Linked DNA regions of Homo sapiens: region 1 is linked to region 2. The links come from fine-mapping of genetic effects on gene expression. Tissue or cell type: whole blood. Region 2 holds a variant in brackets; the other region holds the start of a gene. Each region is shown on its reference strand, or each on the opposite one.

The links. PIP is the estimated chance that this variant, and not a neighbour inherited with it, causes the effect. A credible set is the group of variants that fine-mapping cannot tell apart.
Region 1: SHD starts here. The variant in region 2 is the best candidate, but not a certain one, in a credible set for the expression of SHD in whole blood (TOPMed, PIP 0.74).

What each region holds. Positions count from the first base shown.
Region 1 is chr19:4,276,414-4,281,413 of GRCh38, forward strand. SHD (Src homology 2 domain containing transforming protein D) reads left to right here and starts at 2,853. Exons shown (of 6, transcript NM_020209.4): 1 at 2,853-3,947. The coding sequence starts at 3,651.
Region 2 is chr6:22,077,065-22,082,583 of GRCh38, forward strand. The region is part of intron 8 of CASC15 (cancer susceptibility 15); the gene reads left to right. Among named protein-coding and RNA genes, the nearest start is that of NBAT1, 67 kb to the right of the region's middle. The variant A/G (reference allele first, on the strand shown) is at 2,233.

The sequences.
Region 1 (5,000 bases), not on the chromosome of region 2:
AATCCCAGTTACTTGGGAGGCTGCGGCAGGAGAATCGCTTGAACCTGGGAGGCGGAGCTTGCGGTGAGCCGAAATTGTGCCACTGCACTTTAGCCTGGGCGACAGAGCAAGACTCGGCCTCAAAAAAAAAAAGCGGCCGGACTCGGTGGCTCACGCCTGTAATCCCAGCACTTTGGGAGGCTGAGGCGGGAGGATCACAAGGTCAGGAGATCGAGACCATCCTGGCTAACAGTGAAACCCCATCTCTACTAAAAATACAAAAAAGTAGCCGGGCATGGTGGCGGGTGCCTGTAGTCCCAGCTACTCGGGAGGCTGAGGCAGGAGAATGGTGTGAACCCGGGAGGCGGAGCTTGCAGTGAGCCGAGATCGCACCACTGCACTCCAGGCCCGGGCAACAAAGTGAGACTCTGCGTAAGAAAAAAAAAAAAGCAAAAAAAAAGCCGGGTTTTGTGGTATGCACCTGTGGTCCTAGCTACCAGGAGGCTGAGATGGGAGGATCATTTGAGCCCAGGATGTTGAATGTGAGGCTGCAGTGAGCTGTGATTGCATCTCCAGCCTGGGCAACAGAGCGAGAGACCCTGTCTCAAAAAAAAAAAAAAAAGGGAGAAAAGAAAAATCCAAATCTCACAAGGTTACGTGGCTGATTCAAGGTCACAGGGGAAGGTGACTGGACCCCTAGCCTGGATCTCTTTCTCTTCTACCTAATCCTCCTGCCTCTCCCTGCCAGCCTCTCCCCACTCCCCTCCTTGGGGTAGGGTCGGGGTGCAGCCCCAGGAGAAGCCAGCTCCAAAGCACAGGAAAGTCAAATGCCGTTTGATTCCGGCCCCGGGGCCTCTAATTGCTATTCCTGACACAGATTGTAATTAGAAGGCCCCTTTCAAATATTTATACCTCAGACATCTAGTTTTATCCGGCAGGGAGACGACTTGGATTTGATGAGATCTGTCAACAGCTCATCCCCGTGGCCCGGAATTGCCTTGCGGCTGACAGAAAGCAGGACAATTACCCGCTGTGCTCCCTGGCCGCCCCCAGGGACGCAGCCTTGTCGCTGATCTGAAAGGGTGGGGGGAAGCGGGGGTGGCCATGCACTTCAGGAGGGAGGAAGGAGTTCAACAGGTCTGTGTTGGGGGACACAGCCAGTGCAGGGAAGGGGAGGAACAGAAGGGTCTAGACGCCTGCATCCTTCAGGGGCTTTGCCTTGTTGGCTCCAGGCCTCAGTTTTCCCATCTGGATAATGGAGCTCATCGTGGAGAGGAGTTGCAGAACCGATTCCATGAAGAGCATTTTGGGAGGCCGAGGCCGGCAGATCACCTGAGGTCAGGAGTTCCAGACCAGCCTGGCCAATGTGGTGAAACCCCATCTCTACTAAAAATATAAAATTATATAAAAATTAGCTGGGCGTGGTGGCAGTAATCCCAGCTACTCAGGAGGCTGAGGCAGGAGAATTGGTTGGACCTGGGAGGTGGAGGTTTCAGTGAGCTGAGATCGCAACACGGCACTCCAGCCTGGAGGACAGAGCAAGGCTCCGTCTCAAAAAAATAAAAAGAGAGACTCCAGTGCCACCCTAGGCCAGGCCCCACGGCGATGTGCAGGCAGAATCAGCTGTGGAGTGGCTCTGAACAAGTCCCTCCCATCTCTGTGCCTCGGTTTCCCCATCCATAAAATGAGGAAGCCAGGTGATAGCTCGGTCCCTCCTGGAATCCTTCCTAGAGCTGTCTGGGATTTCCTGTTAGAAACCACATCTTTCAAATAAGGAAAACCAAGACTCAGGGAGTGACAGACCCTGCCCTCAGCCCCGCCGGGCTGCCAGGAGGCCCCAGTCATAGCAGTGTTGGTTCTGACTTCTGTCTTGTCCTCCAACTGTGCTCTCCAAGCTATGACCTGTGCCTGACCAGGGGGCTGGCCACAAGAGGAGAGAATCTGGGGTCCCATCCTTCCTGACCACCCCTCTCTCACTCCCCTCATTAGGAGGAACTGGGCAAGCCCCCTTATGGGGAAAGAAAAAAAACGGTTCTGCACTGGAAAATTGGCCAGTGGCTCCCTTTTCCTCTCCCACCCCCCAAACCTCTCAGTGCCCTCACCCTCAGACAACGACAGCTGACAACAGGCAGCCAGTTCAGGCCAGACCCCTCTCACTTCTGCCCCTCTTCCCGCCACCGCTCCCCCCCACCCCGCCCCCAGAAGCCACAAAAGGACAGATGCAGAGGACAGGCGCCAGGCACAGATACCATCTCCCTTCCCCAAGCCAGCTGCCCCCAACCCTCCCCCTGCCCGCAATTAGTCCTCTGGGGCGGGAGCGGGGCACAGAGCAGAGCCCTCTTGGGGGAGGGGAAGCCCGATCCGCACCCACCCTTCCTTTGCCCCCCTCTTCCTTCTGCTGCTCCAATATCAATTTCAGCCAGTGACCTCTCCACCAATTTGCACATCCCCACTCTCCCGGTCCGTTTCACCGCCAGACATCGGTTCCATTTCGACCCTCACTGGCGGTCATTCCCACCCCCTCTGCTGGTCAATTTCACCCCTTTTGGCGGTCAAGTGCAGTCCCCCATTTCCCGGGCAATTTCCCCCTCCCCTCCTTCTCCCTCTCCCCTCCCCTCCCCAGCAGTGTCACTCCCAGCTGCTCCCCACCTCCCGCGCTCCGCGCTCGCTGCGGCCAGTCTCGGGCGTCCCGGTCAGTGTCCAGCTGCCGCGGCCTCGGCCCCGGCGACTCCCGCCCCCAGCCCCCCTTCCCTCCGCGGGCAGCGGCTCCCTCCCTCCCCAGAACAGCTGAAGGTCTCAGTCACCTCCGAGGGGAGCGCAGGGGGAGGGGAGGGGCGGGGGACGCGGCGGAGGGGAGGTGGGGGAGCCTTGACGCTGCTGCCCGGGACGCGGCCCGGGGCTGGTGGGAACAGGGGCGTCCTCCTGCGCGCCCCCCTCCCCAGCGTCCCACCTCCCGGCGGCGGCGGGGAAAGTCTCTCCGAAAGCGTGAAGGGGGATTGGAGGAGGTTTTTATTTCCCTTTGTGCGGGTGGCTGGGGCCGGATCGAGGCGGCGGGGGCCGCGGGACTGGGGGCTCCCCGCTGAGCCGAGAGGAGCGCGACAAAGGATGCGTCCCGCCGGGGTCACAGTCTCCGCGGCCCAACTTTGCGCGCGGCGCCCGCGCCCCTGGGGAGCCCGCCCGCTGCGCTGAGAACCCAGGCGTCCGGGCTGGGAGAGGGGCCGGGAGCGTCCGCAGGTGGCGCTGGCCCGGATCTCCCGACCCCAGGAAGGGATCCCGGAGCTTCCTGGAGGCGGCGGGCGGCCGTGTCGCTCCAGGGAACCGCGCTGCCCGCGGAAACTCCGCGCGCCTCCGCGGATGCCCCTCGCCCTAGCCCCCAGCGCGCGGGGTTCGGGGCCCTGCGAGGTCCCCCCTTCCCCCGCGGTGCTTCCCAAGCTGGGCTAAGGCGGGCTTCTCTTCCTCCCTCCTCTGTCGCCTCCTTTTCCTCCCCCTCGTTCACCTTTTCCTTCCCTCTATCCATCCAGAGCCCCGCCAAAGGGCGCACCTGATCTTTCTCATCCTTCCCTGCTCTTCCCTTCCTCTCCACCTCCTCCTCCTCCTTGGGGAAAGGGGCCCGGAGAAGGGCATGTGGGGGCCCCTCTGACAGTGGCCCGATTGGGGTGACAGGCGCCCAAATGGCCAAGTGGCTACGGGACTACCTGAGCTTTGGGGGTCGGAGGCCCCCTCCGCAGCCGCCCACCCCGGACTACACCGAGAGCGACATCCTGAGGGCCTACCGCGCGCAGAAGAACCTGGACTTCGAGGACCCCTATGAGGACGCGGAGAGCCGCTTGGAGCCGGACCCCGCGGGCCCTGGGGACTCCAAGAACCCCGGAGATGCCAAGTATGGTTCTCCCAAGCACCGGCTCATCAAGGTGGAGGCTGCGGATATGGCCAGAGCCAAGGCCCTTCTGGGCGGCCCCGGGGAGGAGGTGCGTGGCTGGGTGGCCTGGGGAGACTGGGTGGAGGGGAGGCTCAGGATGGGCTCTCTGGATCGTGGAGAGCTTATTTTATGTGTGATCACAGGAGGGGACTGGGGCACCAGACAGACCCTTCCCAGTCCTCCAGACCTCCACCTGCTTGGGGAAGTCTGTTCTTTTTATGTATTTATTTATTTTGAGACAGTCTCCCCCTGTCACCCAGGCTGGAGTGCAGTGGTGGGATCTCGGCTCATTGCAACCTCCACCTCCTGGGGTTCAAGCGATTCTCCTGCCTCAGCCTCTCCAGTAGCTGAGATTACAGGTGTGTGCCACCACACCCGGCTAATTTTTGTATTTTCAGTAGAGACTGGTTTCACCATGTTAGCCAGGCTGGACTCAAACTCCTGACCTCAGGTGATCCTCCCGCCTCTGCCTCCCGAAGTGCTGGGATTACAGGTGTGAGTCACTGCGCCCGGTGGATATCTGTCCCTTTTCAATGCATAATGCTGGTTGTCCTTCTGCCTCTCTGACCACCCTGCTTGGTCTCCGGGTCCTCCTCCTCCTCCATGGTCATCCCCTGCAGTCCCCCAGCCCCCTCCCCTCAGCACCCCTTCCTCTTGGAACCTGGTGGGATCTTCCTAAAATAGATCTGAGTGAGTTGCTCCCCTGCTGGGCACCTAAATATCCTCCCGGTGATGCTGCCCTTCCTACCACTATGTTCCCGTTTTACAGAAGCGAAACTGAGGCTCGCAGAACGGTAGTGACTTGGCTAAGGTCTCACGGGGTTCTAGCTTACTAGGATTTGAACCCAGGCCACCGGGTGCAGTAGCTCATGCCTGTAATTCCAGCACTTTGGGAGGTCGAGGTGGGAGGATTGCTTGAGCCCAGGAGTTCGAGACCAGCCCGGGCTAACAGAGTGAGACCTTGTCTCTACAAAAAAAAAATCAAAACATTAGCTAGTTGTGGTGGTGCACACCATAGTCCCAGCTACTCAGGAGGCTGAGGCAGGAGGATCACTTGAGCCTAGAAGGTCAAAGCTGCAGTGAGTCATGATTGCGCCACTGC
Region 2 (5,519 bases):
ATTTGATCCAGTAAAATTACCCTAAGCTTTCAGGTAATTAATCTTTAAACACTTTGCTGATGTCAAAGCCCAAGGTGAAGGTATTTTCTTGAATATTATGGTATTGCCTCTGGTGGTTAAGAGTCGTTTGTTGCAGACAGTAAGAGGCACGGAGACAAATTTAATTTTAGTTTTACTTTTTAGAAAAAGAAAAATAGAAGTATTTGTTCAGGTACAGTATAAATGTAGAATATATATATGTGTATATATTCACACAAACATACACACATGAAATATTTCTTTGTTTAAAGCAATCAATACAACGTAAGACTCCAACACTTTGTGTAAACATGTTCCTGTACTACATGAAAGTTCCTATCTCAGTATTTATAGTATGATGTTGATAAATTGCATGATTTTTTTTTTCTGATTGGTGGTAATAAATGACAGTGATTTATCACTTAACTTTTCAGGTGAGTTCAAACAGTTGCCTAGGCTGATAAGCAACTAAAATATTTAACAGAAAAGCAGACCTTTCTGTTTTCCCAGAAGCATATGTCCAGATATTAGCAATAGGATATGAAGAAGGGGAAAGAAAATTGTAAAAGGGTTGTTCTGAGAGCAGTCCGTACAGTCAGAGCTGCAATAAGAGCTCGTTTTCATGCCCAGCTGTGTGTCTGCTCTGTCAGCAGCGTTAGAGTCTTGATCTTTATCAGGTTACTGCTGCTGATGTCTACATTTTCATTTACCTTGGCTGCCATTTAATAATAATAATAATAATAATAATAATAATAATACGACAAATGATTAAGGCAGAGCTAGGAGTGGACCCGAGAACGCATGTCTCGTTATATGTCTATTACATCTCCTGTGACATCTATGATGGGGCATAGTCTTAATTTTACCAAGCCAGATTCCTATTTTTTGGTTTTCTAAGTTTTTCTAGCTTTTAATAAGTTTTTGGAATTATGAAAACGATGAAAACTCTGAAGTCTCATTTCTAGAAATTGTTCATTTTCAAACTGTGTTCTAAGGAGTGTTAAGGACACAGTTGCCTCTGATGCCATGGAGAACAGGGGTCAGAGAAGGGGAAGTTAACATCTCTCTGGGTTCCTCAGGAAAAGAAGACTTTATCAAAGACTTCTATTTATATATTGGAGTTCGATAAGATTTCTTATAGAAAAAATAGCTTTTGAATAAAGTTTGAAGACCAATGGTCTAAGCCATCATAACTGCGGAAATGTCTTTCTTCAGTATCCCTGCTTGGACAGTGGTTTTGCCCCCATTGTGCACAACACTTTTCCAAAAAGCCTTTCAACATTAATTATGGCTGGAGCTGACTGCTTTCCTCAGACCATCATGCTTCTCCTAATACAATAAATGTTTCTCTTGCTGGGCAGGTGGATGATTGGATTGATGAATGGATGCATAGGGATGGGCAGGAAGGAAGGGAGAGAGGGCATGCATTTATCTCCATGTGTCTGATCTTCTATGTCCAGACATTTTTTTAAAATTATTTGATTATATTTCTTATCACTTAGGGTAGGAACCATATCTTGCCTGCATTTTTTCTAGCTCATATGCGGTTAGAGAAACAGTGAACTGCCTACTCACTCTTTCATGTATTTTGGGGGCCAGATATCCTTCTAGGTGCTAAGGATACAGCAGCAAGCAAAACAGACAAAAATGCCTGTTCTGGTGGAGTTTAGTTGGAGGAAAAAGAGTAAACAGAGAAGTGAATTTTATGGTAGGCCAGTTACTGATCAGTGCTACAGAGAAATACAAAGCAGCAAAGGGGAGGAGGCAGCTATTTTGTATACAGCAATCACTGATACTTGCACAAGGACCTGAAGGAGGTGAAGGAGGGGACCTGGGAGCCATAAGGAGAAAGACTTTGAAGTACGTGCTTGTTTGGCATATTCTAGGACCAGCAAGGAGACCCCCTGGGGCAGGGCAGGAAGCGCCAGAAGCTGATTGCTATGAGGTCTGACTGTTTTTCCTTGTTCACTCTAAGCTGGGAAGACAGTCACGAAGTTTGAGCAGAGCAAAGACGTGATCCGACTTAAAAGAACCACTCTTACTTTAGTGTTAACCATGGACCAGGCATCAGAAACCTTTTTATGTAAAGGTCCAGATAGTAAATATTTTAGGCTTTACAGGCTATATGATCTCTTTCACAACTACTCAACTCTGCTATTTTAGTACAGAAGCAGCCATAGACAATATGGAAGTGAAAGGCTACGGCTGTGTTCC[A/G]ATAAAACTTTATTTTTTATAAAACAGGTGTCAGGCTGGATTTGGTTCCCATGCCACAGTTTGCCAACCACTAAACTAGACCATTTGCCAAGTGGTTTTGAATTGTGGCTATGAGTGCGTAATTATTTTGTCTGTATCACTTGTCAGCCAAAACACACCCCAAACAGTCTACCATCTATTGATAATTTTTATGTGTAATGCCCTATTTACACAATTCATCTGTTACCACCTCAAAGCCGTAGATGTAATTTAATAAGTTGATGCTTTTAAAAGACTTGTCTATTAGAAAGAAAGTTAGCCATTCATAGTTTCTTCATATCAAAGTTCCCATATCACTTTGAGGAATGGAATATCCAGGACAAGGACTGTGTTCCCTGTAATGATTGTTGTGAGTTCTGCTTACTCTTCTCTACTTTTTTCTCTGACTGGGCTAGCCCAGTGCAGTCCAAGAGAAATGTAACATGGGTCTCAAGTGCAAACCATATCAAGAAGTTTAAAACTTCTAGGAGCCACATAAAAAATGCAAAAAGAAACAAGGGAAATTAATTTTAATAATGTTTCGTTTAAACCAAAATATTTCAGTACGTCATCAATATAAAATTACCGAGATATTTTACATTCCATATCTTGTACGAAGTCTGAATTCTGGTGTGTATTTTGCAATGTAGACTAGTCACATGTCAAACCCTCACTCCGTGGCCACATGTGGCTCTTGGCAGAGATCTACAGGATTGGAGAAGGCTCAGAATTTGGCCTTCCCTGATGAATGGCCTTTTGTAAAAACAGTAGCAACACTAATAACCCAGCAATAATCTTTAAGCTAATTTGTGAAACTAATTTACTTTTTCTTTGAAAGAGATTACAGGTATGGACCACTTTACAAGCACTGAGATTATTATTATTGCTGTCTTCCAGTTACTCAACAATGATGAACAGCAAAGTATGATATAAGGAGGACTTCTAATATTCAATAGAGTTTTCTTTTCTTGTCTTTGTTTAAGTTTCTTTTTTTTTTTTTTTTTTTTTTTGAGATGGAGTTTCACTCTGCCACCCAGGCTGGAGTGCAATGGTATGATCTTGGCTCACTGCAACCTCCACCTCCTGGGTTCAAGCAATTTTCCTGCCTCAGCTTCCCAAGGAGCTGGGATTACAGGTGCCCACCATGCCCGGCTAATTTTTTTGTATTTTTAGTAGAGACGGGGTTTCACCATGTTGGCCAAGCTGATCTCAAACTTGTGACCTCAGGTGATCCACCTGCCTCGGCCTCCCAAAGTGCTGGGATTATAGGCGTGAGCTACCGTGCCTGGCCTAAATTTCTCATGTGCTTACTAGGTAACTGGTTACAAATATAAAAATTGCAAAATCAGCTCACTAGTGATTCTCTCACCCTCACCCCCAGCTCAATAACTGGCTCTAGAGTCATTTGGCAAGACTTTAGAACTGCACGGATTGCACCTTCTCCCCCTTCAGGGAGAATCTTCTGTGTGCTCTATCGGTTGTTTTCAATGTGAAACAGGACTCAGAGGTGGTGGCCACTGAAGGCCCAACCTGCAAATAAAGCTTAGTAATATTCATTTTGCACAATTTAAATACATATGTGTACATTTACTAATCTATAACTGATCCCCCCAATACAGAATTATCTGGAATTTGCATAAGAAACTGTTTATATAAACTGCAAAACACCTATATGTTAAATGATTTTTAATAGAATTGAAATTCTAAGAAATTAAATTCTTTTTTCTATTCTTTGAGAAAGGTTCTTGCTCTGTCACCCAGGTTGGAGTGCAGTGGCACGATCATGTCTCACTGCCACCTAGACTTCCTGGGCTCAGGCAATCCTCCCGTCAAGGCTCACAAGTAGCCCAGACTACAGGCACATGCCACCATGCCCAAATAATTTTTTTAAAAATTAATTTTTTCTGTGGAGACAGGGTCTCATAATGTTACCCAGGCTGGTCTGGAACTCCTGGGCTCAAGTGATCCTCCCACCTCAGCCTCCCAAAATGCTGGGACTACTGGCATGAGCCACCATGCCCAGTCTCTACAAAAAAACTTTTTAAAAAAATTAGCCAGGCGTGGTGGCATGTGCCTGTAATCCTAGCTACATGGGAGGCTGAGGTGGGAGGATAGCTTGAGCCTTGGAGGTCGAGGCTGCAGTGAGCCATGATCATACCGCTGTACTCCAGCCTGGGTGACAGAGTGAGAACCTGTCTCCAAAAAAAAAAAAAAAAAAAAAAAAAAAGGAAAAAGAAATTAAAATATAAGACAACATAGAGTTTGAGAGTTGGCAAACAGCAGGGCATAAATAAAATAAATAAAATGCTACAGAGCCATTTGACTAAAATTTTTGAGAAACTTGTAGCACTACAGCAGGGCTACTCCAACGGCCTGTAACAGCAGTAAAAGCAGCAGCACCTTTCCTCACTTTGCCAGACACTGCCGTTTTGGCTTTATCACCCGGAGGGGGTCCCATGCCATTGTGGGAGTGTCCAGTGGTGTTCACGGGGACCCTGACACAGAAAACTGGCCATAGGATCTAATGAAGGAGGCGATGATCAGAGCTGGGAAAATTTGAGTTACCACAGTTTCTCTAACTACATCTGATTCCACCACAGGATCAGTCATGGGTATCTTTGAGGTACACACATACTCAAATCTTGCTCAGTTAATTACTTTCAGGCACAACCAGGCCATTAAAATAGTAATTGAGTTATAAGTTACTATTTTATAAATCCCTTTCTAAGTCTTTGTAGATTTATAGATTCAGTCTTCATTAAATTTGACCATAAGCCAAGTAATTTCAATTTCTTTAAGAAGAGAGTTTGGCAGATGTTAAAATAGAAGGGAAAACCTGATTTTATGGAATTTCTTGAAAGAGAACATTTTGAATCCAGTGAAAAGGGAAAAAAAGTCAGTATTATTTATAGTCACATAGTATAACAGCAACAAGAAGTAATTCCTCTGGCTAGACGTGACCTCCTCTGGCTAGGGCACTTTTAAAAATGCTTTATGTAGAACTTATTTAATTCTTACAATCATATGAGATAGGTATTGCTCTTTTCCTCATTGTGCAGTGAAAGAAACTGATTCCAAAAAGGTTTCATAACTTGCCCAAGGTTATACAGCCAGTAACTGGTAAAGCTGGGATTTGAGCCCAAACAGCCTGACTCTGGAGTTCCTCCCTTTAATCACCACACTAAGTAAATATCCATGTGCATGATGAATGGATAACCTGAAAAGCATTTTACAGATCAAGTCGTATTAAGCACCTAATGGGTTTAAAA